Linked DNA regions of Homo sapiens: region 1 is linked to region 2. Evidence: fine-mapped expression QTL. A gene starts in region 2. The other region holds a variant in brackets. All regions are shown on one strand. Distances are between the middles of the regions. Region 1 holds the start of MOGAT3 (monoacylglycerol O-acyltransferase 3). Region 2 holds the start of COL26A1 (collagen type XXVI alpha 1 chain).

Region 1 (14,917 bases), 160 kb after region 2:
CAAGGGACATGCAGGGGCCTTATGTTCAGGGACTGGGATACCCTGAGGGAAGAAGGACTTCCCGGGATGAGCTGGGCAGAATTTGGGGGGCTGTCCTCCCAGCTGACCGCGGTGTCGGTGCCTCCAGGGGTGTGTGGAATGTACCATACATCTCCCAGGCCTATGTGATCCGGGGTGATACCCTGCGGATGGAGCTGCCCCAGAGGGATGTGTTCTCGGGCAGTGACACAGACCCGGACATGGCCTTCTGTAAGAGCTTTCGAGACAAGGTGAGCGCGGGTGCACGGTCTGGCCTGGGGGCAGTCCCCCAGACTCCAGGCATCGCCTGCATCACGGACACCCCCACCCCACTACAGGGCATCTTCCTCCATCTGAGCAATCAGCATGAATTTGGCCGGCTCCTGGCCACTTCCAGATACGACACGGAGCACCTGCACCCCGACCTCTGGCAGATCTTCGACAACCCCGTCGTGAGTGGGGACCCCACGCCCAGAGCACACAGGTTCCCCGCCTTGTGCTAAGGAAGACACCAAACGTGATGGCTGCTGCCAGCGCAGGACACTGAGTGGGAGGGGGCGGTCCCCTGGGGGCTGGGAGCGAGGGGGGCACAGATCTGATGTGCCCCCCACCCTCTCACAGGACTGGAAGGAGCAGTACATCCACGAGAACTACAGCCGGGCCCTGGAAGGGGAAGGAATCGTGGAGCAGGTGAGCCCACGCAGCCTCCCCACCCACCCCCTGCCCTCATGGCCATCGCCTCTTGGGGGCCCCCGCCTGGATTCAAAGTTTTCACACTGAGTTCCCCAGAGATCTGAGGGTTTTCTGTTCAGACAAGATGAAGGCAGAGGCCGAACAGAAAGGACTCTTGCCCCCAAAGCCAGCATTGATCAGACAGCCTCTTCTCCTGTATATTGGGTATACTGGTGTTATGCTTGAAATCACATCTTAAAAGAAGAATGGGGCTGGGCTCAGTGGCTCATGCCTGTAATCCCAGCACTTTGGGAGGCCAAGGTGGGTGGATCGGTTGAGGCCAGAAGTCCAAGACCAGCCTGGGCAACATAGCGAGAATCTGTCTCTACAACAACAACAAAAAAATTAAATAAGAAATGAGGCCAGGAGTGGTGCTCATGCTTGTAATCCCAGTACATTGAGAGGCCGAGGCAGGCAGATCACCTGAGGTCAGGAGTTCGAGACCAGCCTGGCCAACATGGCAAATCCTGTCTCTACCAAAAAAAAAAAAAAAAAAAACACAAAAATTAGTCAGGTGTGATGGCGTGCACCTGTAGTCCCAGCTACTCGGGAGGCTGAGGTGGGAGAATCGCTTGAACCTGGGAGGCAGAGGTTGCAGTGAGCCAAGATCACGCCACTGCACTCCACCTTGGGTGACACAGCGAGACCCTGTCTCAAAAAAAAAAGAAAAGAAAAAATTAGCTTGGCATGGTGGCATGTGCCTGTAGTTCCAGCTACTTGGGAGTCTGAGGCGGGAGGATCGCTTGAGCCCAGAAGGTCGAGGCTGTAGTGAGCTATGATTGTGCCACTGCACTCCAGCCTGGTTGACAGAGCAATACCCTATCTCAAAAAAAAAAAAAAGAGGTATGCACTGTTACGGAAGTTTGGAAACCACTGTCCCAGCACGAGGGGCTCCAGGACCCTCTGCCACCTCTCCTGTGCCAGAAACCGGTCCTCAGCCTTGCCACTCCCTCAGCCCCTACCTGGCGGGTCCCCGGCTGCTCTCACAAAGCCTTCCCTGCTCCTCCCTGCCCCTTCCCATTCTGCCTGCTGCCTGTCCCCTTCCCCGTTCTGCGGCGTCAGCTAGCCCTGTTCTCCCTCGCCCCATCCTCAGCCATGCCCGGACGTGTACTGGTTCCCACTGCTGTCAGAACAAATGTGTGATGAGCTGGTGGCAGAGATGGAGCACTACGGCCAGTGGTCAGGCGGCCGGCATGAGGTAAGGGCCTGGGCGAGGAGGGCAGAGGCCTTCCCAGAGGAGGAGGTGCAGGATCTGGTAAACAAACAATGGAATCAGGAAAATGGGAGCAAAGAGGGGTTCCCAGGGGGGAGGCAGACCCTGGGGTCACAACTGCATTCATTCATGTATTCAAGAAATATTTACTGCTGGGCACAGTGGCTCATGCCTGTAATCCTAGCACTTTGGGAGGCTGAGGCGGGAGGATTGCTCGAGCAGGGGGAGTTTGAGGCCAGCCTGGGCAACATAGCGAGACCCTGTCTCTACAAAAAATTTAAAAATTAGCCGAGTTTGGGCCAGGTGCGGTGGCTCACGCCTGTAATCCCAGCACTTTGGGAGGCCGAGGCAGGTGGATCACCTGGGGTCAGGAGTTCGAGACCAGCCTGACCAACATGGAGAAACCCCATCTCTACTAAAAACACAAAATTAGCCGGGCATGGTGGCGGGCGCCTGTAGTCCCAGCTACTCGGGAGCTGAGGTAGAATTGCTTGAACCCGGGAGGCAGAGGTTGCAGTGAGCCAAGATTGAACTCCAGGCTGGGCAACAAGAGTGAAACTCCATCTCAGAAAAACCAACAAATTAGCCGGGCATGGTGGCATGTCCCAGCTATTCAGGAGGCTGAGGCAGAAGGATCACTTGAGCCCCAGAGTTAGAGGCTGCAGTGAGCTATGATCATGCCGCAGTACTCCAGCCTGGGTGACAGAGCAAGACTCTGTCTCTAAAAAAAGAGAAAAGGAAATCATTCCTGGGCCACTGTCCTAGACTGCACTGCAGGAATGCCTCATGCCGGTCGAGCTCTGCCCTGCTGTGAGCAGCAGCCACCACACAGCTTCTAAGGCTGCGATGAGCAGCCTGGGTGCAATAGAAGCCACGGGGAAGCCTTGACCCAGACTTGGGAGGAGTAGGGAGCTTCACAGGACAGGTGACATCTTAGCTGAGACTTGAAGGGCCGGGAGCAGTGAGTCAGGCCGAGAAGTAGCAAAGAAGACTGTTCTGCACAGAGGAACACAGGTGTGAAGGCTGGAGGACGGGAGGAAGGAGGCTGGACTGCCCTGGGGTGGGGAGCGCCATGGCTGGAGGGGCGGGTGGCTCAGTGCCCGCCGCCCCCAGGATTCAAGGCTGGCTGGAGGCTACGAGAATGTGCCCACCGTGGACATCCACATGAAGCAGGTGGGGTACGAGGACCAGTGGCTGCAGCTGCTGCGGACGTATGTGGGCCCCATGACCGAGAGCCTGTTTCCCGGTTACCACACCAAGGTGCGCTGCCCACCTGCCAGCTGCCTCCCCACCTTCCCCACCCCAGTCCCGGACAGGAAGTCTCCACGCAGACCCCTTTCGGCCCCGGCAGCATTTGGGCTCCATGCATTTTAGTTCCCAGGGGAATGAGACGCTGCAGGAGGCACCCCAGGGGAGGGAGGGCGCCAGGCTGAGACCCAAGGTGAGGCTTGGCCCTAATTTAATGCCAGTGAGCAGCGAGAGCCTCCTACGCAGGGGTCCCGCCGCCCCTCCCCTCCCCTCCCTGGACAGGGACCGTCATCTCCCTGAAGACACCCTGCGATGGCCGGGCGTGGTGGCTCACACATGTAATCCCAGCACTTTGCGAGGCTGAGGTGGGTGGATCACCTGAGGTCAGGAGTTCAAGACCAGCCTGGCCAAGATGGTGAAACCTCGTCTCTACTAAAAATACAAAAATTAGCCGGGTGTGGTGGCAGGTGCCTATAATCCCAGCTACTCGGGAGGCTGAGGCATGAGAATTGCTTGAAACCGGGAGGCAGAGGTTGCAGTGAGCCAAGATCGAGCCAAGATCGCACCACTGCACTCCAGCCTGAGTGACAGAGCGAGACTATCTCAAAAGAATAATAATAATACAAAATAAAAGACCCCCTGCGCCCGCAGCTGTCCCTGCAGCCTCTTCCCTCCTCTCCCCCAGGCGCGGGCGGTGATGAACTTTGTGGTTCGCTACCGGCCAGACGAGCAGCCGTCTCTGCGGCCACACCACGACTCATCCACCTTCACCCTCAACGTTGCCCTCAACCACAAGGGCCTGGACTATGAGGTGCGCCCCAGTCACACTACCCACCCACGCTTCACCTCAGGACCCTCGGGTCCCCACCTAGAGCCCCTGCGTGCATCCCCCAGCTCCCCTCCCTGCCCATTTCCCAGTGACTTTGTGGGTATCAGCTCCTGGATCGCTTCTGGGCAGGCGGCCTCTGCTTCCTCCTGGATCTTCCTGTCTGCAGGCACCCCAGCCTCCGGTGTCTGCCATATCTGCCATCTCCCTTGTCACCCCGGTCTGCTGCACCGTGCCCCCCGGTCTGGCCGCCCTGCCCCGTGTATCTGCCTGCTCCCCAGGCCCCACGTCTGCTCACTCCATGTTTCCTTTCCCTTCTCTTTCCAGGGAGGTGGCTGCCGCTTCCTGCGCTACGACTGTGTGATCTCCTCCCCGAGGAAGGGCTGGGCACTCCTGCACCCCGGCCGCCTCACCCACTACCACGAGGGGCTGCCAACGACCTGGGGCACACGCTACATCATGGTGTCCTTTGTCGACCCCTGACACTCAACCACTCTGCCAAACCTGCCCTGCCATTGTGCCTTTTTAGGGGGCCTGGCCCCCGTCCTGGGAGTTGGGGGATGGGTCTCTCTGTCTCCCCACTTCCTGAGTTCATGTTCCGCGTGCCTGAACTGAATATGTCACCTTGCTCCCAAGACACGGCCCTCTCAGGAAGCTCCCGGAGTCCCCGCCTCTCTCCTCCGCCCACAGGGGTTCGTGGGCACAGGGCTTCTGGGGACTCCCCGCGTGATAAATTATTAATGTTCCGCAGTCTCACTCTGAATAAAGGACAGTTTGTAAGTCTTGAGTCCATTGGTCTGCCCATTAACCCCATCTCCCCTCCTGCCAGCAGCGTAGAGGGGAGAGACCCAGAAAAGCGAAGACAAGAGGAAAAGGGAGAGGCAGAATGTTAGACCCTCGTGGGAACCTGGGAGCTTCCCTGGCTCCCACTTTCCCCTTCCCCTGTATTGCCTGAGCTGGAGACAGTGTGTGAGAGGGGCCGGGCGCGGTGGCTCACGCCTGTAATCCCAACACTTTGGGAGGCCAAGGGGGGCGGATCACGAGGTCAGGAGATCCAGACCATCCTGGCTAACACGGTGAAACCCCGTCTCTACTAAAAATACAAAAAATTATCCAGGCGTGGTGGCGGGCATCTGTAGTCCCAGCTAATCAGGAGGCTGAGGCAGGAGAATGACATGAACCCGGGAGGCAGAGCTTGCAGTGAGCTGAGATTGTGCCCCGGCACTCCAGCCTGGGCCACAGAGTGAGACTCCATCTCAAAAAAAAAAAAAGTGCATGAGAGGGCACAGACCAAAAGAGGGACTTCCCAGGCTGGGCACAGTGGCTCACACCTATAATCCCAGTACTTTCAGAGGCCAAGGCAGGCGGAGGATCACTGGAGGCCAGGAGTTCAAGACCAGCCTGGACAACATAGCGAGACCCCCCCCATCTCTACAAAAAATAAATTAGCTGGGCGCGATGGCTCACGCCTGTAATTCCAGCACTTTGGGAGGCTGAGGTGGATGGATCACCTGAAGTTGGGAGTTTGAGACCACCCTGGCCAACATGGTGAAACCCTGTCTCTACTTAAAAAATACATAATTAAGCTGGGCACGGTGGCCCATGCCTGTAATCCCAGCACTTTGGGAGGCTGAGGCGGACAGATCACGAGGTGAGGAGTTCAAGACCAGCCAGGCCAAAATGGTGAAACCGCATCTCTACTAAAAAATACAAAAATTAGCTGGGCATGGTGGCGGGCGCCTGTAATCCCGGCTACTTGGGAGGCTGAGGCAGGATAATTGCTTGAACCTGGGAGGGGGAGGTTGCAGTGAGCTGAGATCGCGCCATCACACTCCAGCCTGGGCAGCAAGA[A/G]TGAAACTCCAACTCAAAAAAATAAATAAGCCGGGCTCAGTGGCTCACGCCTGTAATCCTAGCACTTTGGGAGGCCGAGGCAGGCAGGCAGATCACTTGAGGTCAGGAGTTTGAGACCAGCCTGGCCAACATGGTGAAACCCTGTCTCTACTAAAAATACAAAAATTAGCCAGGTGTGGTGGCACAGGCCTGTAATCCCAGCTACTCAGGAGGCTGAGGCAGGAGAATTGCTTGAACCTAGGAGACGGAGGCTGCAGTGAGCCAAGATCGTGCCACGGTACTCCAGCCTGGGTGACAGAGCAAGACTTCGTCTCAAAACAAAAAAACAAAACAAAAAAAGCTTTCCACGCTACCCACAGAGGGCTCCATCCGGCGTTGTTCTGGATTCCTGTTGTAACTTAAAGAGAAACTTTCACAACATCCGGAGCCCTTGATGTCCTGCAAATGAAGGAGGAAGATGTCCTTAATTTCCTTGCAGCAGGAAACCAATTAGGTGGCACCAACCTTGACTTACAGATGGAACAGTACATGTATAAAAGGAAAAGTGATGGCATCTACATCCCAAATCTGAAGAGGACCTGGGAGAAGCTTCTGCTGGCAGCTCGTGGCATTGTTGCCATTGAAAACCCCGCTGATGTCAGTGTCATACCCTCCAGAAATACTGGCCAGAGGGCCGTGCTGAAGTTTGCTGCTGCCACTGGAGCCACTCCAATCGCTGGCCGCTTCACTCCTGGAACCTTCACTAACCAGATCCAGGCAGCCTTCCGGGAGCCACGGCTTCTTGTGTTTACTGACCCCAGGGCTGATCAGCAGCCTCTCACAGAGGCATCTTATGTTAACCTACCTACCTTGCTCTGTGTCTCACAGATTCTCCTCTGCGCCATGTGGACATTGCCATCCCAAGCAACAACAAGGGAGCTCACTCAGTGGGTCTGATGTGGTGGATGCTGGCTCGGGAAGTTCTGCGCATGCGTGGCACCATTTCCTGTGAACACCCGTGGGAGGTCATGCCTGATCTCTACTTCTACAGAGATCATGAAGACATTGAAAAAGAAGAGCAGGCTGCTGCTGAAAAGGCTGTGACAAGGAGGAATTTCAGGGTGAATGGACTGCTCCGGCTCCTGAGTTCACTGCTACTCAACCTGAGGTTGCAGACTGGTCTGAAGGCGTGCAGGTGCCCTCTGTGCTATCTAGCAGTTCCCTACTGAAGACTGGAGCATTCAGCCTGCCACAGAAGACTGGTCTGCAGCTCCCACCACTCAGGCCACTGGATGGGTAGGAGCAACAACTGAATGGTCTTAAACACCTGTACTGTGAGCTCCCCCTGCCCCATCTTCCAGCCCAGGTGCACCTGGCAGCCTGGCTCTTGCATTCCTCGGCTGGGCTTGGATGCTGGCGGTCCTCTACCTGGTCTGGCTCTATTGGGATAGAAACATACCCAGGGCTGGAGCCCGCAGATCTGCCTGGGTTTGCAACTGGGCAGTTTGAGACATTTCTGTGACTACTTCCCCCTCTCAGTGAGGACCTGGGCTGTGGGGTGCTGGGTGCGGTTGGGGCTTCAGAATAGACTCTTGGGACCACCATCTCCCAAAGTGCAATCTCACCGTTGGGGTGGGGTGCGCCCGTCTGCTCCCCAGCTAGTTAAAACTGCAAAGTTGGGCACCTCCTGGAACTACCTCTTTGACTTCCACCCTCACAGGGTCCTGGTCGTGGGAGCCTTCGCCAACTTCTGCACAGAGCCCACGGGCTGCTCCTGCCTCTTCCCCAAACTCCCGCCACACCTGCTCATGCTGCCTTGTTGGTTCCATCTCCTCTTCTTCCAGGACTACATCATGTCAGGTGGTGAGAAGAGGAGGACCTTGCTGCTGTCTCCCGCCCCACCATCCTCTTCCCAGGGGACACTGGGGCCCAGCTCTCCTTTCCCCATGTCCTCTCCACTCTTCTTTCCAAGTCCCAGGCTTTGGCTGGGTGCGGTGGTTCACACCTGTAATCCCAGCACTTGGGAGGCGCAGGCGAGAGGATCGCTTAAGGCCAGGAGTTCAAGACCAGCCTGGGCAACACAGTGAAACCCCATCTCTACACAAGAAAAAACAAAAACAAAAATTTAGCCAGGTGTGGTGGTACACACCTGTGGTCCCAGCTACTGGGAGGCTTGAGGTGGGAGGGTCACTTGAGCCCTGAAGGTCAAGGATGCAGTGAACCAAGATCAGGCCACTGTACTCCAGCCTGGGCAACAGAGCAAGACTCCGTCCCTAAATAAATAAGTAAATAAGACCCAGGCGTTGGGTCCCCCAGCTTCTGCCCTCCCCCCAGGTTTGGTCTCCTTTGTCAAGGCCCCGCTGCCTCAGTGGTGGCCAGGTGGCTGTCCTGGCGTGGGAGGGCCCCTGCAGGCGCTGGAGGCAAAACCCGGACAACTGAGCTTGCCGATTCGGAATCAGAAGAGATTGGTTAAGTCAGCTCTGGAACTCGGGTGAGGACCCGAGCGTGACCCGGTGGGGACGCCCCAGGGCTGCCGGGCCGGGGAGGAGGAGAGTGGCGCCACCCGCGGACCCCGGGGCCAGGAGTCAGCCGCGCCATGCTCTCCTGCGGCCTCCCTAGTGCCTGTCTTCTCCAGGGAGAATGAGCTCTTCCAGCAGTTCCCGAACCCGCAGAGCTCGTGGGTGCAGAGGACGCAGGAGGCTCTGCGTCCGCTGCTAAGCGTGGCCCTGCAGCTGTTCCTGGGCCGCCGGGGCCTCCCGCTGCCCTTCCGCGCGCCCATCCGCACCGTAGGTGAGCCCCGGCCTCCGCCCCGCGATCCTGGCCCAGGGCCCGCTCCCTCCCCGTCCCGGGTTGGGGCCACCCAGACTGGCCTTTGGCCACCGCGCCAGCCCTGAACTCTGTTCCCGCCTATCCCCAAGGAGGAAAAGAGGAGGAGAACCGGGGATCCCAGCCCAGATCGCCTCCCGTCCCGCCCGCAGTGGGGTCGGCGATTCCCGTGCAGCAGAGCCCCCCGCCCAGTCCGGCCCAGGTGGACACGCTGCAAGCGCGCTACGTGGGGCGACTCACGCAGCTCTTCGAGGAGCACCAGGCGCGCTATGGTGTCCCCGCCGACAGACACCTGGTCCTCACGGAGGCGCGCCCCACCGCCTGGCCTCGCCTGTCCGCTGGGTGACTGCAGGTGGGGAAGTGAAATTAAAGACTGGCGGCAGGGCACGGTGGCTCACGCCTGTGATTCCAGCACTTTGGGAGGCCGAGGCGGGTGGATCACTTGAGGTCAGGAGTTCGAGACCAGCCTGGCCATCATGGTGAAACCCCATCTCTATTAAAAATCCAAAAAAAAAAAAAAAAAAAATTAGCCAGACGTGGTGGCGCGCCTGTAATCCTAGCTACTCGGGAGGCTGAGGCAGGAGAATCGTTTGAACCCGGGAGGCGGAGGTTGCAGTGAGCCGAGATCGTGCCACTGCTCTCCAGCCTGGGTGACCGAGACGTGTGAAAAAAAAAGAAAAAAAAGAAAAGAAAAGAAAAAGAAAAAAATTAAAGTGGGAAACAGACCTGCAGCCTGTGTGTGTTTGTGCATGGCGGGGGAGGTCCAGGCAGGGGTGGTGACCTTGACATTCCTGGAGATGCCCCGGACCAGGCCCTGCCCCCACCCCGACTGGAGGTCAAATAGTCTCAGCAGGGCTTCTGGCCCCTTCCAGCACCTGGGACCCAGTGGGTGGGGCTAGCCAGATCACTCTTGTCCACTCCAACATCAATTCCTGAGGCACTCGGGTGTCACCTCTCCCTTGCACACCCCTTACGCCTCCCAGCCCCACCCAGCAGCCAGCCCAGACTGGTGACTGACAGGAAGTTCAAAGATCAGGCTGAGAAAAAACCCAGAGACATCTGGGGCTCTGGATCCAAAGATCTCCCCACTCACACACCTACGGACACACGCTACTCTGGGAGGTGATTTGCGACTTAGCCAGGCCCCCAAAGCTGGGCTCCTGTAGGGAGAAAGTCTGCCCAGGTCCACATCCAAGCCTTCATCGTTTGTCCTCCGGGTTCTGGGATCCTGCTGGAAGAGGGGAGCTTCTGCAATGGGAGTTGCCACAACCCTGCAGCCCCCAACCACTTCCAAAACCTTGCAGAAGCAGCATCTAGAAGCAGTGGGCGCCTACCAATATGTGCTCACTTTCCTCTTCATGGGTGAGAGCTGGGGAGGCGTGGGTGCCTGGGGTCTGCCAGGGGAGTAGGGCTTGGAGGGAGAGTGGCTGGGCTGCTGGCTTGCATGCCTGAGGACAGTGACCAGGTGACTGGTCTGGGAGAGGGCCAGAGGAGAGAGCTGGTTGTTCTGAAGGGGAGGAAGGGAAGGGAGCAGCTGGAGGGAATGATGGAGTTTCAGAAGTGAACTCTTTTCTTTCTCTCCCTTCCCCCAGGCCCTTTCTTCTCCCTTCTTGTCTTTGTCCTCCTCTTCACGTCACTCTGGCCCTTCTCTGTTTTTTACTTGGTGTGGCTCTATGTGGACTGGGACACACCCAACCAAGGTGAGCTCCGGATGGGGGCCCAGGTAGCCAGAGATGGTGGGGACATGGGGGGTGAGGGGAGGTGACTCCGGGGGTTCGTCCACCAGTATCTCATTGTCCGCAGGTGGAAGGCGTTCGGAGTGGATAAGGAACCGGGCAATTTGGAGACAACTAAGGGATTATTATCCTGTCAAGGTGATGGGTCACCCTGCAGAAAAACTGCTTCCTACCTCTCCCCATCTCCCTCCCACACCTAGGAGCCCTTCCTTGTGCTGGGGCCTGAGCTCCCCGCTGCCTAAGCTCAGGCAGTGGGACAGGGAATGGATTTTTTTTTTTTTTTAGACTGAGTCTCCTGTCACCGAGGCTGGAGTGCAGTGGTGCAATCTCAGCTCATTGCAACCTCCGCCTCCTAGGTTCAAGCTATTCTCATGCCTCAGCCTCCCTAGTAGCTGGGATTATAGGTGCCCGCCACCATGCCTGGCTAATTTTTGTAGTTTAGTAGAGACAGGGTTTCAACATGTTGGCCAGGCTGGTCTCAAACTCCTGGCCTCAAGTGATCCAGCCACCTCGGCCTCCCAAAGTGCTGGGATTACAGCCTTGAGCCACCGCGCCCGGCCTGGGAGTGGATGATGTTCAAGAGCGGGGCCTTGGTGGGGCACCATGGCTCATGCCTGTAATCCAAGCACTTTGGGAGGCCGAGGTGGGAGGATTGCTTGAGCCCAGGAGTTGGAGGCTGTAGTGAGCCATGATTGCGCCACTGTACTCCAGCCTGAGCAACAGAGTGAGACCGTCTCTAAAAAAAAAAAAAAAAAAAGGCGGTTGTGGTGGCTCAAGCCTTTAATCCCAGCACTTTGGGAGGCTGAGGTGGGTGGATCACCTAAGGTCAGGAGTTCGAGACCAGCCTGACCAACATGGAGAAACCCCATCTCTACTAAAAATACCAAACAAATTAGCCGGACATGGTGGCACATGCCTGTAATCCCAGCTACTCTGGAGGCTGAGGCAGGAGAATTGCTTGAACCAGGGAGGCGGAGGTTGTGGTGAGCTGAGATGATGCCATTGCACTCCAGCCTAGGCAACAGGAGCAAAACTCTGCCTCAAAAAAAGAAAAGAAAAAAAGAGAGAGTGGGTGAGGTGGCTTACGCCTGTAATCCCAGCACTGTGGGAGGCCAAGGCAGGCAGATCACGAGGTCAGGAGTTCAAGACCAACCTGGCCAATATGGTGAAACTGCGTCTCTACTAAAAATACAAAAATTAGCTGGGCATAGTTTCGCATGCCTGTAATCCCAGCTACTCGGGAGGCTGAGGCAGGAGGATAGCTTGAACCGGGACCAAGAGGCGGAGGTTGCAGTGAGCCGAGATCGTGCCACTGCACTTCAGCCTGGGCTACAGAGCAAGACTCCATCTCAAAAAAAAAAAAAAAAAAAACCTGGGCCCTTAACCCTATCCTAAGAACCTTTAACTCGGAACTCTGCTGGGGTGGCCCTTGACCCTATCCTAAGAACCTTTAACTCGGAACTCTGTTGGGGTGGAGGGCCCCTCTTTTCAGCCGGTGTCTTGCCTTCCATCCTCCCTTCATCCTGCTCAACACCCCGAAGCTGGTGAAAACAGCAGAGCTGCCCCCGGATCGGAACTACGTGCTGGGCGCCCACCCTCATGGGATCATGTGTACAGGCTTCCTCTGTAATTTCTCCACCGAGAGCAATGGCTTCTCCCAGCTCTTCCCGGGGCTCCGGCCCTGGTTAGCCGTGCTGGCTGGCCTCTTCTACCTCCCGGTCTATCGCGACTACATCATGTCCTTTGGTGAGCCGAATGGGAGGAGGAGAACGGGAGGAGACTCCTGACCAGATGTTCCCCAGCCCCTCTGGGACCACCCCCCCCCATAATAAGTCCCCCACCCAGGACAGGGGCCAGCCTGAGCACTGCCCAGACTTGCAGTGAGCATTTGGGTAGGTTCCCCGCCTTGGAGATGGGGGTAGGGGGCTTGGAACTAAAGGCTGGGTGAGGGGCGGGGGTGCCGTGGAGGCAGATGGGAACTACTTTCCACCTCCTCCTGCCCACAGGACTCTGTCCGGTGAGCCGCCAGAGCCTGGACTTCATCCTGTCCCAGCCCCAGCTCGGGCAGGCCGTGGTCATCATGGTGGGGGGTGCGCACGAGGCCCTGTATTCAGTCCCCGGGGAGCACTGCCTTACGCTCCAGAAGCGCAAAGGCTTCGTGCGCCTGGCGCTGAGGCACGGGTGAGTGCGCGTGCAGGCCCTACCTGTCAGTTCTCTGCTGGTTTATGCCCTCTCTCAGTCCCCAGACATCTAGGTCCCTGCATGGGGGATCCGGGTGCCCAGAGACCAGCGCCCTGCCCTGCACCGAGGCCCACGTGGGCTCTCCAGGGCATGACTCGGTACCAAACATGGGGCCCGCTTACCCTAAGCTCCCTCCCACATCCGTGGAGACAGGACCATAATGCAAATAGCAGGGCCCTCGGTCTCAGAAGCCCTGGCTTCCCTCTCTGACCCCAACTCAAAGGCAAGACCTTGCACTTGTTTCTTTTTTTGTTATTGTTGTTGAGACAGAGTCTCGCTCTGTCGCCCAGGCTGGAGTGCAAAGGCGTGGTCTCGGCTCACTGCAACCTCCGCCTCCCGAGTAGTTGGGACTACAGGCGCCCACCACCACTCCGGGCTAATTTTTGTATTTTTAGTAGAGACGGGGTTTCACCATTTTGGCCAGGCTGGTCTCGAATTCCTGGCCTCAAGTGATCCGCCCACCTTGGCCTTCCAAAGTGCTGGGATTATAGGCGTGAGCCACCGTGCCCGGCCGGACTTGTTTCTTTACTTGCGAAGAGGGCTGATACCTACCTTGCCACGATGTTGTTATTGCAAAGACCGAATGAGAAAATGACTATGAGAAGGCCCACTACACAACTGTGTCTCAAGAAATGTGAGTCCCGGCTGGGCGTGGTGGTTCACACTTGCAATCCCAGTGCTTTGGGAGGCCAAGGCAGGAAGATCACTTGAAGCCAGGAGTTCAAGACCAGCCTGGGCAACATAGGGAGACATCATCTCTACAAAAATAAAATAAAATAAATTAGCCAAGTGTGGTAGTGCACGCCCGAAGTTTCAGCTATTCGGGAGGCTGAGGTGGGAGGATGGCTTGAGCGGAGAAGGTTGAGGCTGCAGTGAGCTATGATTGCACCACTGCCCTCCAGCCTGGGCAAGAGAGCAAGGCCTTGTCTCTTTTAAAATTTTTTAAATTATTTATTTTTTAAAATTTTCTAATTTTTAATTTTTGGAGATGGAGTCTTGCTCTGTCACCCAGGCTGGAGTGCAGTGGTGTGATCTCGGCTCGCTGCAACCTCCACCTCCCGAGTTCAAGCCTCTGAAGTACCTGGGACTACAGGTGCACGTCACCACGTCTGGCTAATTTTTGTATTTTTAGTAGAGATGGGGTTTCACCATATTGGTCAGGGTGGTCTCGAACTCCTGACCTCAGGTGATCCACCCACCTCAGCCTTCCAAGGTATTGGGATTACAGGCATGAGCCACCGCACCCAGCCTATTTATTTTTTGAGACAAAGTCTCACTCTGTCACCCAGACTGAAGTGCAGTGGTGTGATCTTAGCTCACTGCAACCTCTGCCTCCCAGGTTCAAGCGATTCTTGTGCCTCAGCCTCTGTAGTAGCTGGAATTACAGGTACCCACTTCCACACCTGGCTAATTTTTATGTTTTTGCAGAGACGGGGGTTTCACCATGTTGGCCAGGCTGGTCTCCAACTCCTGACCTCAAATGATCCTCCCACCGTGGCCTCCCAAAATGCTGGGATTACAGGTGTGGTTACAAGACCCTCTCTCTAAAACAAAGAAAAAGAAAGAGAAAGAAATGCGAGTCCTGTCTTCTAGATCTTTCTTTGTAGCCATAGTCATGTGCTTTGAATGACCCTGGGAGGTAGCATCTGGACGTAGTGGGAAGGACTTGTAGCCCCTGGGGGTGCCCATCTCGGAGCAGTCCAGCAGCCTGAGCCCCCTCTTCTCTCTTGCTCCTTCCCAGGGCGTCCCTGGTGCCCGTGTACTCCTTTGGGGAGAATGACATCTTTAGACTTAAGGCTTTTGCCACAGGCTCCTGGCAGCATTGGTGCCAGCTCACCTTCAAGAAGCTCATGGGCTTCTCTCCTTGCATCTTCTGGGGTCGCGGTCTCTTCTCAGCCACCTCCTGGGGCCTGCTGCCCTTTGCTGTGCCCATCACCACTGTGGGTGAGTGCCCACCTCCGGGGGGACGGCCACCAGCAGCTGCGTGGGCATCAGGGATCCCTCGCCCACCTGTCTCCCTCTCCCTGCAGTGGGCCGCCCCATCCCCGTCCCCCAGCGCCTCCACCCCACCGAGGAGGAAGTCAATCACTATCACGCCCTCTACATGACGGCCCTGGAGCAGCTCTTCGAGGAGCACAAGGAAAGCTGTGGGGTCCCCGCTTCCACCTGCCTCACCTTCATCTAGGCCTGGCCGCGGCCTTTCGCTGAGCCCCTGAGCCCAAGGCACTGAGACCTCCACCCACTGTG
Region 2 (14,917 bases):
AGACGTTGTGATTTCCAATGGAAAAACACTACAGCACCCAAGATGTAATTCTGCCAAAATAGAAAACGAAGGAGGAGGAAGAACTAGATCCAACCAAGCTCTTGATCTAATTTCCCATTATCTGGAAATAAAGAGGACAGATGAACATGTTCACAGGCACCATGAGCATATAACCAACAAAATCCTGAAAAAGGAACAATCTAGAAGGCCAAGTTTCTTCAACAAATAAATTGCAACAAAAAGAAGGGAGACAGTGGAGGAGACTTGTAGACAGTGGTGTTCTGCTGAATATTTAACACCCAGCTTTCCAGAATAAAGCCACATCCTTCTGTTAGTCAGCTCAAGGTTGCCGTAACAGAATACCACAGACTGAATGGCTTAAGTAGCAGACATTTATTTCTCATAGCCCTGGAGGCTGGGAAGTCTAAGATCAAGGTGCTGGCAGATTCAGTTCCTGGTGAGGGTTCTCTTTCTGGTTTGCAGACAGCCACCTTCTTGCTGTGCTGTGTCCTCACATGGCAAAGAGAGAGAGCTCTGATTTCTCTTCTTCTTTTTTTTTTTTTTTTTCTTTTTTGAGACAGAGTCTCACTCTGTTGCCCAGGCTGGAGTGCAGTGGCATGATCTCAGCTCATTGTACCCTCCGCCTCCCGGGCTTAAGCGATTTTAGTGCCTCAGCCTCCCAAGTAGCTGGGACTACCGGTGTGCACCACCACGCCCGGCTAATTTTTGTATTTTTAGTAGACACGGGTTTTCACCATGTTGGCCAGACTGGTCTCAAACTCCTGACCTCAGGTGATCCACCCACCTGGGCCTCCCAAAGTGCTGAGATTACAGGCATGAGCCACCGCACCTGGCCTCTCTTCCTGTTCTTATAACATCCCTAATCAAATAATGGGGCACAGCCCTCACAACTTCATCTAAATCTAGTTACCTCCAAAGGTCCCCCCTCCAAATACCACCACATTGGAGGATAGGGCTTCAACATATGAATTTGGTGGGGACACACACATCAGTCCAGAGCATCTCCTGATATAATATGGTAGACTAGACCACCTATGAAGAATTTCTGTCTCTCCCAGCAAGCCCAAATAGAGACCATAAATCTAATCAAACCTTCCAACCTAACTTCCAAAATAGAAGAGATACAGGGGGCAGAGGATCCAATTAATTACACCACTGGGAAGCAATTAGTCAAAACTAGTACGTGGACATTGCAGATCAAGTTAACTACACCACTGGGAAGGAAATAGCTAAATCTAGTACGTGGACATCGCAGAGAACAACTGGTCTTCAACAAGTCAACAGCGTGGAGGAAAAAGTACTCTCTCAAAGGGGGAAGACTTTCCTACACTAAAAGGGAGAGAAAAGACAGAATAACCAATAAGCAGACTTATTTAGATCCTGATTTGAACAAACTAACAATTAAAAACTGCTTTTTGGCCAGGCACAGTGGCTCACACCTGTAATTCCAACACTTCGGGAGGCCAAAGCTGAAGGATTACTTGAAGCCAGGAGTTCAAGACCACCCTGGGCAACATAGCAGGACCCCACCTCTATGAAAAATTTAAAAGTTAGCCAGCCATGGTGGCCCATGCCTATGGTCCCAACTACTTAGGAGGCTGAGGTGGGAGGATTGCTTGAACCCAGGAGGTCGAGGCTGCAGTGAGCTATGATTGCACCATTACGCTCCTGCCTGGGTGACAGAGCAAGACCCTGTCTTTAAAAAAAAAAAAAAAAAAAAAAAAAAAAAAAAAAAAAAAAAAATCAGACGTTAACAAGGAGCAGTAACAATGAAATTAAAGCACTCTTTGTCAAGAAACAGCCCTGTCATCATTGCCTGTCAACTGAAGCCAAGCCCCGGTAAACACACTACTGAAGGCCAAGGCTGCAAGGACCACTGCTGTCCCCAAGCCTTCAGCTTCTGGACATCTTGGATCTCAAGGACAAGGGACACTTGTGATAGATAGCTCATGAGACACAGAAACATGTGACGCCCAAGCCAGCTCCAGCCTGTAACTCACCCAGGCAACAACCAGGTGCCTGCAATGCCCACGCTGGGCTTTCTGGGCAAAGAGACTCAGTCACACTCTGGAATATCAATGTGCCCCAAGCCTCCCCAACACCTTCTGGTATCCTTTTTAGGAATCCATTGCCCACAGATTCATCCACATCCTCCCTAAACCTAATTATATCCTCTCCCTGTTCTTATCCTGGTGGAAAGAGTTCTGGAAGATTCCACACTTGTTTGAGCCTCTTTTTGTTTGTGCTAAAATGATCCCTTCCAAGTTTCTGCAGATGTCCCCAAGTTCCAACCCACCAAATGCCAGAATGAGGTCCCCATTCGCTCCCGCTCTTCATGGTCCTCACCTCTTGCTTTTTTGCAGGCGTATTTCAGGCTGCAAACACCTTTTTTTTTTTCCTTCCCACACCTTTTAATTACAAAAGTATTACATGAATATACGCTCCTTGCAAAACATCCATTCAATCCCCGTACCGGCCAGTAGGTTCTCTTAGGGACCAAGCACAGTGGCTCATGCCTGTGATCCCAGCACTTCGGGAGGCTGAGGCAGGCAGATCATTTGAGGCCAGGAGTTTGAGACCAGCCTGGCCAACGTTACATTTTTTATTGGCCAACAATACAAAAATTAGCCAGGCGCAGTGGTGGGCACCTGTAATCCCAGCTACTTGGGAGGCTGAGGCAGGAGAATCACTTGAACTTGGGAGGCAGAGGTTGCAGTAAGCCAAGATTGCACCATTGCACTCCAGCCTGGGAGACAGAGCGAGACTCTGTCTCAAAAAAAACACAGAAACCAGAAAAACATTCAGACAAGCCACAAGCAGACAGAGGGAAAATGGGACAGTCCCCTGGCCCAGCCCTAGACTTCTTCATAACATTAACTGCTGAAATGGTTTCCTAGAAACTTTTTTCAGGCATTTATCTACCTAGATGTAGATCTGATTTTCCTTTTCATAAATGAAATCGTGCTGTATATATTATTCTGTAACTTGAAAAGCTTGTTTTTTAGACAATCCTCATATGGAACTGTGCAGAGGCCACACTAGCGTGGGTGTTTGGAGAATGCTCCTCATAGAAGCCCCGGGTAAGTATTTCCAAACAAAATGAGAGAAATAGGATTGCATACAAACTTTTCCAGAGGCACTTTTATGCTTTTCTGGGTCCCGCCCTATTCAGCCATGACTGTATATTTCTTCCCAGCATGAAACATCCCTGTCTCCTTGTTATTAAGGAATTAGCCAGAAATCATCTTGGAGTCCTCTGATTTGGTAAATATCAAGGAGAAAAAAAGAACTAGGAGCTGTCTTTTAGCTTTGATAGGCAGAGCAGTATGCTAGAAAACACCAGATCTGGGCCTGGCGTGGTGGCTCACGCCTGTAATCCCAGCATTTTGGGAGGCCGAGGCAGGAGGATCTCTTGAGGCCAGAAGTTTGAGACCAGCATGTGTAACACAGTGAGATCCCACCTCTACAAAAAATCAAAAAATTAGCCAGTCATGATGGTGTACACCTGTGATCTCAGCTACACAGGAGGCCAAGGTCGGGGGATCACTTGAGCCTGGGAGATCAGGTTTGCAGTGAGCTATGATCGCACCACTGCATTCCAGCCTGGGGAGCAAGCAAGACCCTATATTAAAAAAAAAAAAAAAAGAAAGAAAGCACAAGAGGTCAGTCCTGAGTGGCTCCTAGGCCTAGCAAATCCTGAGCCTCTGTTTCTTCAGCTAAAGGAAAGATACTACTCTAATGTTTTAACCCTAGGGTTGTTAAGGATCAAAAGAAATGGAGATTGGGAGGCCAAGGCGGGAGGATCGCTTGAGCCCAGGAGTTTGCGACAAGCCTGGGCAACAGAGTTGAGATTCTGCCTCTGCAAAAAAAAAAAATTAAAATATAAAAAAGAGACGGAGGGAACAGACACAGGTAGTGCATTCCAGAGCGCTGTCATAGCTGTGTAGGTTGTAGTTATCACTAAATGAGAAAAGCTAAATTCAAGCGAGTTATGCAAACGAGGCGTTTGGCAACTTTTACTTGCATGCTTATGGTTTTCTGGGGAAATTCAAATGCGGGCTCCGGAGCCGCAGCCCTGAGCGTCCCGGGGGTGGCCATGGCGCCACCTGCCGGCCGAGAGGAAGGAGACGCCTGGCGGGTCCCGGCGCCCGGGCCCGGTGACCCTGCGCCCTCTCCAACCCCGCCACGGAGCCACCCGATCCCAGCCGGTTCCACGTCCCGGGGTGGCTGGGGAGTCGCAGCCGAGGATCCTCCGCGGCCTCAGCCCCAAAGACTGGGCGGGAATGACCCCTCTGGTGTCCTGGGGCCGCTGATAGGAGAGGGGTGCCCGGGACGCGAGGCCTTGGCCACCCGAGAACCTGCTCCGCGACACAAAGCCGCAGCCGCGCAGGTGAGCGGCAGAGCCACGTGAGCGGCCGAACGCCCCGGGCAGAGCCCCAGCCCCAGCCACGGCGGTCGGAACCACCTCTACTCGGAGCCCGGAACGAGGGGGCGAAGGTTGGGGAAGCGAAGAAAGGAAGGGACAGGGTGGGCGCGGCCAGAGACCACCGCAGCCCCGGAGCCGGACCCGAACCTTCAGCCCCCGCAACCCCGCAGCCCCGCAGCCCCGCGGCCCCAACCCCCAGCCTCCTCCATCGCTCGTTCCAGCTGCCCCGTCTGCAGCCCCCAACCCCCGCCGCCCCGCGCCCCAGCCCCCAATCGCCCTGCACCCAAGGCCCTTCGGTCTTTCCCCCCGTGACCCCAACCCCCAGCCACCGCCATTTCGTCCCAGTTGCCCCGTGTCCCCTGCCCCTGGCATCCGCCACCCCGCGCCCCCAGGCCCGAATCGCCCCGCACCCCAACCCCCTCCAGCTCTCGTTCCAGCTGCCCGGTGTCTGCAGCCCCCAGTCCCCGCTGCCCTGCGCCCCCAAGTCCCGGATCGCCCCGCTCTCCAGCCCCCAAGCCTCGCTCCAGCCACCCAGTGGCCAGGGCCCCCGCTGTCCGCTCCCTCCCCCCACCCCCCGGCCCCTCGGCCCCGAGCTACTCACCGGCGGCTCGCGTAGCCGCTGCCAGGGGAGCCGGCGCCGGGCTCGGGGTAGCCGTGCTGCTGCAGAGCTGCGGCCGAGAAGGGATAGAGGAAGCCGGTGGCCAGCGCCGACCCGCAGAGGCAGCAACACGCCCAGGGCAGGAGCAGGGCCAGCTTCATCGTGCGCAGCAGCCCGCGGGGACCCGGAGTCCCGGGCACGAGGACCGGCAGGAGCGCACCGGCGCCCGGACCGAACCCGCGGCACCGGCCGGGAGCACAGCGAGAGGAGCGGGGCGAGCGGTCGGAGCCCGGGTGCGAGCTGGAAATGTGTGGGGGGCGCCCACGCCTCTCCGGGGCCGCCTTTTCAAATTCGGCGAGGTGGGCTCTAAGCCGTCAAAGGGGGCGTGGGGCTTTTTTGTTAACCCTCGGCGGTCCGGGGCCGAGGAGGCGGCAGTGGCGGCAGAGCTAGGGTGCGAGCTCCGCAGGAGGTCCCTGGAGCCTAACACCCCGAAAGCCAGACCTCGCGCCCAGGCCCCCGCTACACACCTTAGAACCTTTGAAACCAAACCTTCTTCGGGTCCGCGAATGCTTTCGGAGCGCCCATTCTGTGTCTGCCAATTTCACCTGGACGATGTTGGTGAATCCTCGCCACACTGCCCTCGATGGTCCCATTCAGAAGTGGAAACTGAGGCTGGAGAAAGTTAAGCCAGACAAATGCGAGTCTTCCGATCCTTGTGCAGGGCTCTTTGGATCAAAGCGCTGCGTTCCCGTGAGAAACTGACCAGAGCTTCCCAGGATTCTCCTCCTTCCCCTTTAACCTCCAGCCCCCACCTGCCCCGCTGTCTCTTCCAGGTAAGAAGCTTTGGGAGGGGCGGAAGGGTCAGTTGGGGTGAGAAGTTGTAGCTAGATTGGGAGGCCGAGGTGGGCGGATCACCTGAGGTCAGGAGTTCGAGACCAGCCTGGCCAACATGGTGAAACCTCGTCTCTACTAAAAATACAAAAATTAGCCTAGTGTGGTGGCAGGTGCCTGTAATCTCAACTACAGGCTGGGCTGAGGCAAGCCAATCACTTGAACTCAGGAGGCGGAGGGTGCAGTGAGCCAATATCAGGCCACTGGCCTCCAGCCTGGATGACAAGGTGAGGCTCCATCTCAAAAAAAGAAAAAAGTTGTAGCTAGAATCACAGATTCATGAGACATCCTATCCAGAAAAGGGCTTCAGGAAGATGTAGGACAATCCCACCTTTTATAAACAGAAAAGCAGAGTCCTAGATCCCATGCTGGGCCCAAGGCCAGCCTGGACCCAAGTTTTGGTCTTTTCTATGTTGCAGGATTCCCATAGGGCTTGGACCCTGCTCCAGGCCCAGGTGGGACCAGAAATCCAGCCCGTACTCTACTCGCCCGGGTTAGGAGCATTTTGTTCCTTTTTTTTTTTTTCTTTTTCTTTTTTTTTTTTTTTTGAGTTGGAGTCTCGCTCTGTCACCCAGGCTGGAGTGCAGTGGTGCGATCTCGGCTCACTGCAACCTCTGCCTCCCGGGTTCAAGTGATTCTTCTGCCTCAGCCTCCCGAGTAGCTGGGATTACAGGCAAGCAATACCATTTCGGGTTAATTTTTGTATTTTTAGTAGAGACGGGGTTTCGCCATGTTGGCCAGGCTGGTTTCGAACTCCTGACCTCAGGTGATTCACCCACCTCCGCCTCCCAAAGTGCTGGGATTACAGGTGTGAGCCACCTAGCCCGGCCTGGGAGCTTTTTTCCTAATTCTTCCAAAAGCAACCTAAGGGTGCAGATGCCCTGAGGCTTGCTCTGCCCCTGTGACCAGTTGAAAACTCCTGTCTGTAAAATGCCTACAGGATGGAGAAAAACCATCAAATATGGAAGTGTTTGCTGGACTGGAGCACATTTTGCAAAAGGATTGTAGAGGCCAGTGGCAATGGCTCACTTCAGTAATCCTAATCCTTTGGAAGCCGGGCACAGTAGCTCACGCCTGTAATCCCAGCACTTTGGGAAGTTGAGGTGGGCAGATTACTTGAGGTCAGGAGTTCAAGACCAGCCTGGCTAACATGGTGAAACCCTGTCTCTACTAAAAAAATAGAAAAAATTAGCTGGGCGTAGTGGCATGCACTTGTAATCCCAGCTACTCAGGAGGCTGAGGCAGGGGAATCGCTTGAACCCGGGGTTGCAGTGAGCTGAGATCATGCCACTGCACTCCAGCCTGGGGGACAGAGTGAGACTCCGTCTCAAAAAACAAAACAACAAAGACCTAATGCTTTGGGAGGCTGAGGCGGGAGGATTGCTTAAGGCCAGGAGTTCGAGGCCAGCTTGGACAACATAGTGAGACCCCCCCATCTCTACAAAAAAAAAAAAAAAGCAAAGCGTGGAGGTGTGTGCCTGTAGTCCCAGCTACTCAGGAGTCTGAGGCAGGAGGATTGCTTGAGCCTAAGGGTTCAAGGCTGCAGTGAGCCATGATGGTGCCATGACACTTCAGCCTGGGTTACATACTGAGCCTGTCCTTCTCCCCTCAAAGAAGGATTGTAGGATTGTTGTTAGAAGACGACAGGAAGATGGCCAAGCATGGTGGCTCACGCCTGTAATCCCAGCACTTTGGGAGGCCAAGGCAGGTAAATCACAAGGTCAGGAGCTCGAGACCAGCCTGCCCAACATGGTGAAACCCCGTCTCTACTAAAAATACAAAAATTGGATAACTAGCCCTGCCCCTGCCCCTGCCCCTGCCCCTGCCCCTGCCCCTGCCTCTGCCTCTGCCTCTCCCTCTCCCCTCTCCCCTCTCCCTCTCGGTCTCCCTCTCCCTCTCTTTCCACGGTCTCCCTCTGATGCCGAGCCGAAGCTGGACTGTACTGCCTCTGCCTCTGCCTCTCCCTCTCCCCTCTCCCCTCTCCCCTCTCCTCTCGGTCTCCCTCTCCCTCTCTTTCCACGGTCTCCCTCTGATGCTGAGCCGAAGCTGGACTGTACTGCTGCCATCTCGGCTCACTGCAACCTCCCTGCCTGATTCTCCTGCCTCAGCCTGCCGAGTGCCTGCAATTGCAGGCGCGCGCCACCACGCCTGACTGGTTTTCATACTTTTTTGGTGGAGACGGGGTTTCGCTGTGTTGGCCGGGCTGGTCTCCAGCTCCTAACCGCGAGTGATCCGCCAGCCTTGGCCTCCCGAGGTGCCGGGATTGCAGACGGAGTCTGGTTCACTCAGTGCTCAATGGTGCCCAGGCTGGAGTGCAGTGGCGTGATCTCAGCTCGCTACAACCTCCATCTCCCAGCCGCCTGCCTTGGCCTCCCAAAGTGCCAAGATTGCAGCCTCTGCCCGGCCACCACCCCGTCTGGGAAGTAAGGAGCGTCTCTGCCTGGCTGCCCATCGTCTGGGACGTGAGGAGCCCCTCTGCCTGGCTGCCCAGTCTGGAAAGTGAGGAGCGTCTCTGCCCGGCCGCCATCCCATCTAGGAAGTGAGGAGCGCCTCTTCCCGGCAGCCATCCCATCTGGGAAGTGAGGAGCGTCTCTGCCCGGCCGCCCATCGTCTGAGATGTGGGGAGCGCCTCTGCCCCGCCGCCCCGTCTGGGATGTGAGGAGCGCCTCTACCCGGCGGCGACCCCGTCTGGGAGGTGAGGAGCGTCTCTGCCCAGCCGCCCCGTCTGAGAAGTGAGGAGACCCTCCGCCCAGCATCCGCCCCATCTGAGAAGTGAGGAGCCCCTCCGCCCGGCAGCCGCCCCGTCTGAGAAGTGAGGAGTCCCTCTGCCCGGCAGCCACCCCGTCTGGGAAGTGAGGAGCGTCTCCGCCCGGCAGCCGCCCCGTCCGGGAGGGAGGTGGGGGGGTCAGCCCCCCGGCCCGGCCAGCCGCCCCGTCCGGAGGGAGGTGGGGGGGTCAGCCCATCCGGGAGGGAGGTGGGGGCGGTCACCGCCCGGCTAGCCGCCCCATCCGGGAGGGAGGTGGGGGGGTCAGCCCCCCGCCCGGCCAGCTGCCCCGTCCGGGAGGGAGGTGGGGGGGTCAGCCCCCTGCCCGGCCAGCCACCCCGTCCGGGAGGGAGGTGGGGGTGTCAGCCACGTCGGGAGGAGGTGGGGGGTCAGCCGCCCGGTCCAGCCGCCCCGTCTGGAGGGAGGTGGGGTCAGCCCCCCGCCCGGCCAGCCGCCCCGTCCGGGAGGTGAGGGCGCCTCTGCCCAGCCGCCCCTACTGGGAAGTGAGGAGCCCCTCTGCCAGGCCAGCCACCCCGTCTGGGAGGGAGGTGGGGGGCTCAGCCCCCCGCCCGGCCAGCCGACCCGTCCGGGAGGGAGGTGGGGGGTCAGCCCCCCGCCCGGCCAGCCGCCCCGTCCGGGAGGTGAGGGGCACCTCTGCCCGGCCGCCCCTACTGGGAAGTGAGGAGCCCCTCTGCCCAGCCAGCCGCCCCGTCCGGGAGGGAGGTGGGGGGGTCAGCCCCCCGCCCGGCCAGCCGCCCCGTCCGGGAGGGAGGTGGGGGGGTCAGCCCCCAGCCCGGCCAGCCGCCCTGTCCGGGAGGTGAGGGGCGCCTCTGCCCAGCTGCCCCTACTGGGAAGTGAGGAGCCCCTCTGCCCAGCCAGCCGCCCCGTCCGGGAGGGAGGTGGGGGGGTCAGCCCCCCGCCTGGCCAGCCGCCCCGTCCGGGAGGTGAGGGGCGCCTCTGCCCGGCCACCCCTACTGGGAAGTGAGGAGCCCCTCTGCCCAGCCACCACCTCGTCTGGGAGGTGTACCCAACAGCTCATTGAGAACGGGCCGGGATGACAATGGCGGTTTTGTGGAATAGAAAGGGGGGAAAGGTGGGGAAAAGATTGAGAAATCGGATGGTTGCCGTGTCTGTGTAGAAAGAAGTAGACATGGGAGACTTTTCATTTTGTTCTGTACTAAGATAAATTCTTCTGCCTTGGGATCCTGTTGATCTGTGACCTTACCCCCAACCCTGTGCTCTCTGAAACATGTGCTGTGTCCACTCAGGGTTAAATGGATTAAGGGCGGTGCAAGATGTGCTTTGTTAAACAGATGCTTGAAGGCAGCATGCTCGTTAAGAATCATCACCACTCCCTAATCTCAAGTACCCAGGGACACAAACACTGCGGAAGGCCGCAGGGTCCTCTGCCTAGGAAAACCAGAGACCTTTGTTCACTTGTTTATCTGCCAACCTTCCCTCCACTATTGTCCTATGACCCTGCCAAATCCCCCTCTGCGAGAAACACCCAAGAATGATCAATAAAAAAAATAAAAATTAAAAAAAAAAAAAAAAAAAATACAAAAATTGGCTGGGCGTGGTGGCGGGCGCCTGTAATTCCCAGCTACTCAGGAGGCTGAGGCAGGAGAGTCACTTGGACCTGAAAGGCGGAGGTTGCAGTGAGCCAAGATCTCGCCACTGCACTCCAGAGCAAGACTCTGTCTCAATAAATAAATAAATGGAATGTCCATACTTCCCAAGTCCCAAGTCTCTGTCTTAAACTCAGAGTTGGTCATCTAGGAGTAAACAGCCTCCTAATGGAATTGCTTCGTTCCTCTCGCCCTCCTTCCCTCCCTTGAGGCCTAAAAGATTTGGAGAATTTAGGTTATCAGGGGATGTTCAGTGCCTCCCCCAAAAAGAATCTGAACTGTGCTCCTTGGGCAGTTGGCCAACACCTAATAAATGATGAGGTCATCCCCCCCCAGGAATTTGTAAGCGTTCTTCCTTCCACCTTCCCCGCATAATGAGATCTTAAAGAGCAGAGAAATTCCATATTCCATGTTGCTGTCAACCGGGCTTTATGCTGCTGGGCATCACGGTAAGGGAACAGCAATATCGTTTATTATCTTCAACTCATTTTTCCAGTGCCAGGGGCTGCACCCAAGCTAGAGTGACCATGGAGAAACAGGGAGACAAAGGAATAACATTACTCCATATAGTGCTAGAGTATTTTAGGACAAAAGCCTCTTTTTTTTTTTTTTTTTTTGAGACTGGATCTCGCTCTATCGCCCAGGCTGGAGTGCAGTGGTATAGTCTCAGCTCACTGCAACCTCTGCCTCCTGGGTTCAAGTGATTCTCCTGCCTCAGCCTCCCAAGTAACTGGGACTACAGGCGTCTGCCACCACACTCAGCTAATTTTTTTTTTTTTTTTTTTTTTTAGTAGAGAAAGGGTTTCACCATGTTTGCCAGGCTGGTCTTGGACTCCTGACCTTTGGTGATCCGCCCACCTCAGCCTCCCAAAGTGCTGAGATTACAGACGTGAGCCACTGTGCCCAGCCTAGGATGAAAGTCTTTAGGACAAGCATGAATACATCCCAGAAACTGCAGGAATAAGACAGTCATCTGAGTTTCATCTTTTTTAAACCGTGCCTCTGTCTCCCAGGCTGGAGTGCAGTGGTGCCATCTCAGCTCACTGCACCTCGACCTCCTGAGCATCATTCCTCCCACACCTCAGCCTCCCGAGTAGCTGGGACTACAGGCATGCACCACCAAGCCCAGCTGATTTTTATATTTTTAATAGAGATAGGGTTTTGGCATGTTGCCCAGGCTGGCCTTGAACTCCTGGCCTCAAGGAATCCACCCGCTTTGGCTTCCCAAAGTGTTGGGATTACAGGTGTGAGCCACCATGCCTGGTCCTCTTCTTCATGTCCAGGACAATAGGTTCATTCTGGCCCGTAAGCATATAACAAGCCACTTCTATGTGCCCGTCTCTGTGCTGGGTGCAGCGAAGGGATGTTGAAAATGCAAATAGCCTGGTACCCACCCTCCAAGTGCTTACAATATTATTTCAGAAGGCATTAAAAAGATAGCTGGCGGCCGGGCGTGGTGGCTCACGCCTGTAATCCCAGCACTTTTGGGAGGCCAAGGAGGGTGGATCATTTGAGGTCAGGAGATCGAGACCAGCCACACCAACAGAGTGAAATCCAGTCTCTACTAAAAATAAAAAAAAATTAGCTGGGCATGATGGCGCACGCCTGTAGTCCCAGCTACTCGGAAGGCTGAGGCAGGAGAATCGCATGAACCCGGGAGGCAGAGGTTGCAGTGAGCCGAGATCTCGCCACTGCACTCCAGCCTGGGCGACAGAGCAAAACTCCGTCTCAAAAAAAAAAAAGATAGCTGGCAGACTGCACAGATGCATACGAGATGAGGTTCCCTTTTTTATTTTTATTTCATTTTATATTTTTACTTTTTTTTTTGAGACGGAGTCTGGCTTTGAAGCCCTGGTAGTGTAGTGGTCTAATCTCGGCTCACTGCAACCTCTGCCTCCTGGGTTCAACCAATTCTCCTGCCTCAACCTCCCAAGTAGCTGAGATTCAAGCAATTCTCCTGCCTCAGCCTCTGGAGTAGCTGAGATTATAGTGCCCACCCCGACGCCCAGGTAATTTTTGTATTTTTAGTAGACACGGGGTTTCACCATGTTGGACAGGTTGGTCTCAAACTCCTAATCTCAAATGATCCACCCACCTCAGCGTCCCAAAGTGCTGGGATTACAGGCATCAGCCACCGTGCCCAGCCAATTTTATTTTTAGACAAAGTCTTGCTCTATTGCCCAGGCTGTAGTGCAGTGGCACAATCATAGCTCACTATAACCCTCGACCTCCCAGGCTCAAGCAATCCTCCCACCTCAGCCTCCCGAATAGCTGGGACTACAGGCATGCACCACCAAGCCTGGCTAATTTGCTATTTTTGTTTTTCATAGAGACAGAGTCTGGCCATGTTGCTTAGGCAGGTTTCGAATTCCTTGCCTCAGCCTCTCAAGGAATTTGCATTGTTTTTAATGAAAAAACACACATATGGTGAACAGTAAAAGTGGGAGAATTGAACAGCCCTAAAATCAAGTAGTCAACAGAGTCCTCCAAAGGGCCAAGTTTTCTACATTAGAATGTTAGCTGCAGGCCAGGCGCAGTGGCTCACGCCTGTAATCCCACGCCTGGGATTACACATGGGAGGCATGAGAGGCTGAGGTGGGCGGATCCCTGAGCTCTGGAGTTCAAGACCAGCCTGGCCAACATGGTGAAACCCCATCTCTACAAAAAATATAAAAATTAGCCGGGTGTGGTAGCTCATGCCTGTAATCCCAGCTATTCGGGAGGCTGAGGCAGGAGAATTGCTTAAGCCCAGGAGATGGAGGTTGCAGTGAGCCGAGATCATGCCACTGCACTCCAGCCTGGGTGACAGAGTGATTCTGTCACAAAAAAAAAAAAAAAAGAAAAAAAAAAAAGAATGTTAGCTGCTGTTGTCACGACAGCTGCCACCTCCACCCCTCGGAGTCCCGATATTCCACACAAGTACTTGTCTCTATTTCAAAACTGTGCCCTTGCCATTGTCTAAATCCATGCAAAACTTCTGGAAAGGCAGAAGCCATTATTCCCAAGAACCAGAGACATCTAGCATTAAAGGCCTTGATTTGGGCTGGGCACAGTGGCTCATGCCCATGGGAGGCCAAGGCAGGAGCTCAGGAGTTCAAGGCCAGCCTGGGCAACATAGTGAGAATATATCTCTACAAAAACAACTAAAAAAAAAAATAGCTGAGTAATTGTTAATTAATCCCGGCTGCTTGGGAGGCTGAGGCGGGAGGATCGCTTGAGGCCAGGAGTTGGCAGCTGCAGTGAGCTGTGATCACCCACTGCACTCCAGACTGGACGACAGAGTGAGACCGTGTCTCAAAAAAGGTTTTGGGCTATGCGTAGTGGCTCACGCCTGTAATCCCAGCACTGTGGGAGGCCGAGGTGTGTGGATCACCCGAGGTAGGAGTTTGAGACCAGCCTGACCAACACAGCGAAACCCCATCTCTACTAAAAATATTAAAAAATTAGTGGAGCATGGTAATCCCAGTTACTTGGGAGGCTGAGGCAGGAGAATCACTTGAACCCTGGAGGCAGAGGTTGCAGTGAGCCAAGACCGCGCCACTGCACTCCAGCCTGGACAACAGAGCAGATTCCATCTCAAAAAAAAAAAAAAAAAAAAAAAAAGATTTTGGAGTTGCGACCCAGGTTTCAGTTCTCCTTCCTCCTCCTTTCCTTGGTGACATTTGGTTACCACATAACCACCCCCCATATCCCCACTAAAATGGAAGCTGGACAAACATGGCTGTCTGTTCACAAAGTGCTTTCTTGGCCCTTGTGTCCTCAACTGCTCATAGAGATGCTGACATGGACAAGGTAGTGATTGTCATTATCCCTACTCCACCTCCTGGGTTCAAGCGATTCTTCTGCCTCAGCCTCCCAAGTAGCTGGGATTACAGGCATGCGCCATCACGCCCAGCTAATTTTGCATTTTTAGTAGAGTTGGGGTTTCTCCATGTTGGTCAGGCTGGCCTCAAACTCCCGACCTCAGGTGATCTGCCTGCCTCAGCCTCCCAAAGTACTGGGATTACAGGTGTGAGCCACCGTGCTCAGCCCATATCCCCATTTTACAGATGGGAAGACAGAGGAAGCAACTTGTCAAGGATCTTGTGTTCCTCCCATGCTATAAGTGCACAAAAGCCTTAGGAACACGGTTGTTTGTACAAAGAGTTCAGATTTCTGTTTTTTTTTTTTTTGAAAAGGAGTCTTGCTCTGTCACCCAGGCTGGAGTGCAGTGGCACAATCTCTGCTCACTGCAACCTCCACCTCCCAGGTTTGAGTGATTCTCCTGCCTCTGCCTCCCGAGTAGCTGGGATTACAGGTGCCTGTCACCACGCCCAGCTAATTTTTGTATTTTTAGTAGAGACGGGGTTTCACCATGTTGGCCAGGCTGGTCTTGAACTCCTGACCTCAAATGATCTGCCCACTTTGGTCTTCCAAAATGCTGGGATTACAAGCATGAGCCACCACACTCTGCCCCTCATTTTTCAAATAGGTCATTTTTTTGTTGTTGTTGTAACTTTTAAAGGAATTCAAAAACTGCCTGTTTTGACAGTTGCTCAAAAAATTAAACCTCATGTTACCCTGTGGCCCAGCAGGTATATATCCCAAAG

Evidence for each region.
Region 1: its variant is fine-mapped to the expression of COL26A1 in pancreas (GTEx, PIP above 0.99).

What each region holds. Positions count from the first base shown.
Region 1 is chr7:101,195,884-101,210,800 of GRCh38, reverse strand. It overlaps MOGAT3 (monoacylglycerol O-acyltransferase 3), which reads left to right and starts at 9,765. Exons shown (of 7, transcript NM_178176.4): 1 at 9,765-10,055; 2 at 10,286-10,393; 3 at 10,497-10,567; 4 at 11,971-12,175; 5 at 12,436-12,610; 6 at 14,412-14,614; 7 at 14,701-14,917. The coding sequence starts at 9,947. The coding sequence ends at 14,855. PLOD3 (procollagen-lysine,2-oxoglutarate 5-dioxygenase 3) reads left to right here. Exons shown (of 19, transcript NM_001084.5): 13 at 128-269; 14 at 357-470; 15 at 640-708; 16 at 1,844-1,948; 17 at 3,077-3,223; 18 at 3,897-4,022; 19 at 4,365-4,817. The coding sequence ends at 4,520. It also overlaps the pseudogene DGAT2L7P and the pseudogene RPSAP46. RefSeq lists enhancers at 6,999-7,805, 7,806-8,613, 14,630-14,917. The variant A/G (reference allele first, on the strand shown) is at 5,889.
Region 2 is chr7:101,353,322-101,368,238 of GRCh38, reverse strand. It overlaps COL26A1 (collagen type XXVI alpha 1 chain), which reads right to left and starts at 5,364. Exons shown (of 13, transcript NM_001278563.3): 1 at 5,049-5,364. The coding sequence starts at 5,206. RefSeq lists a silencer at 3,991-4,230.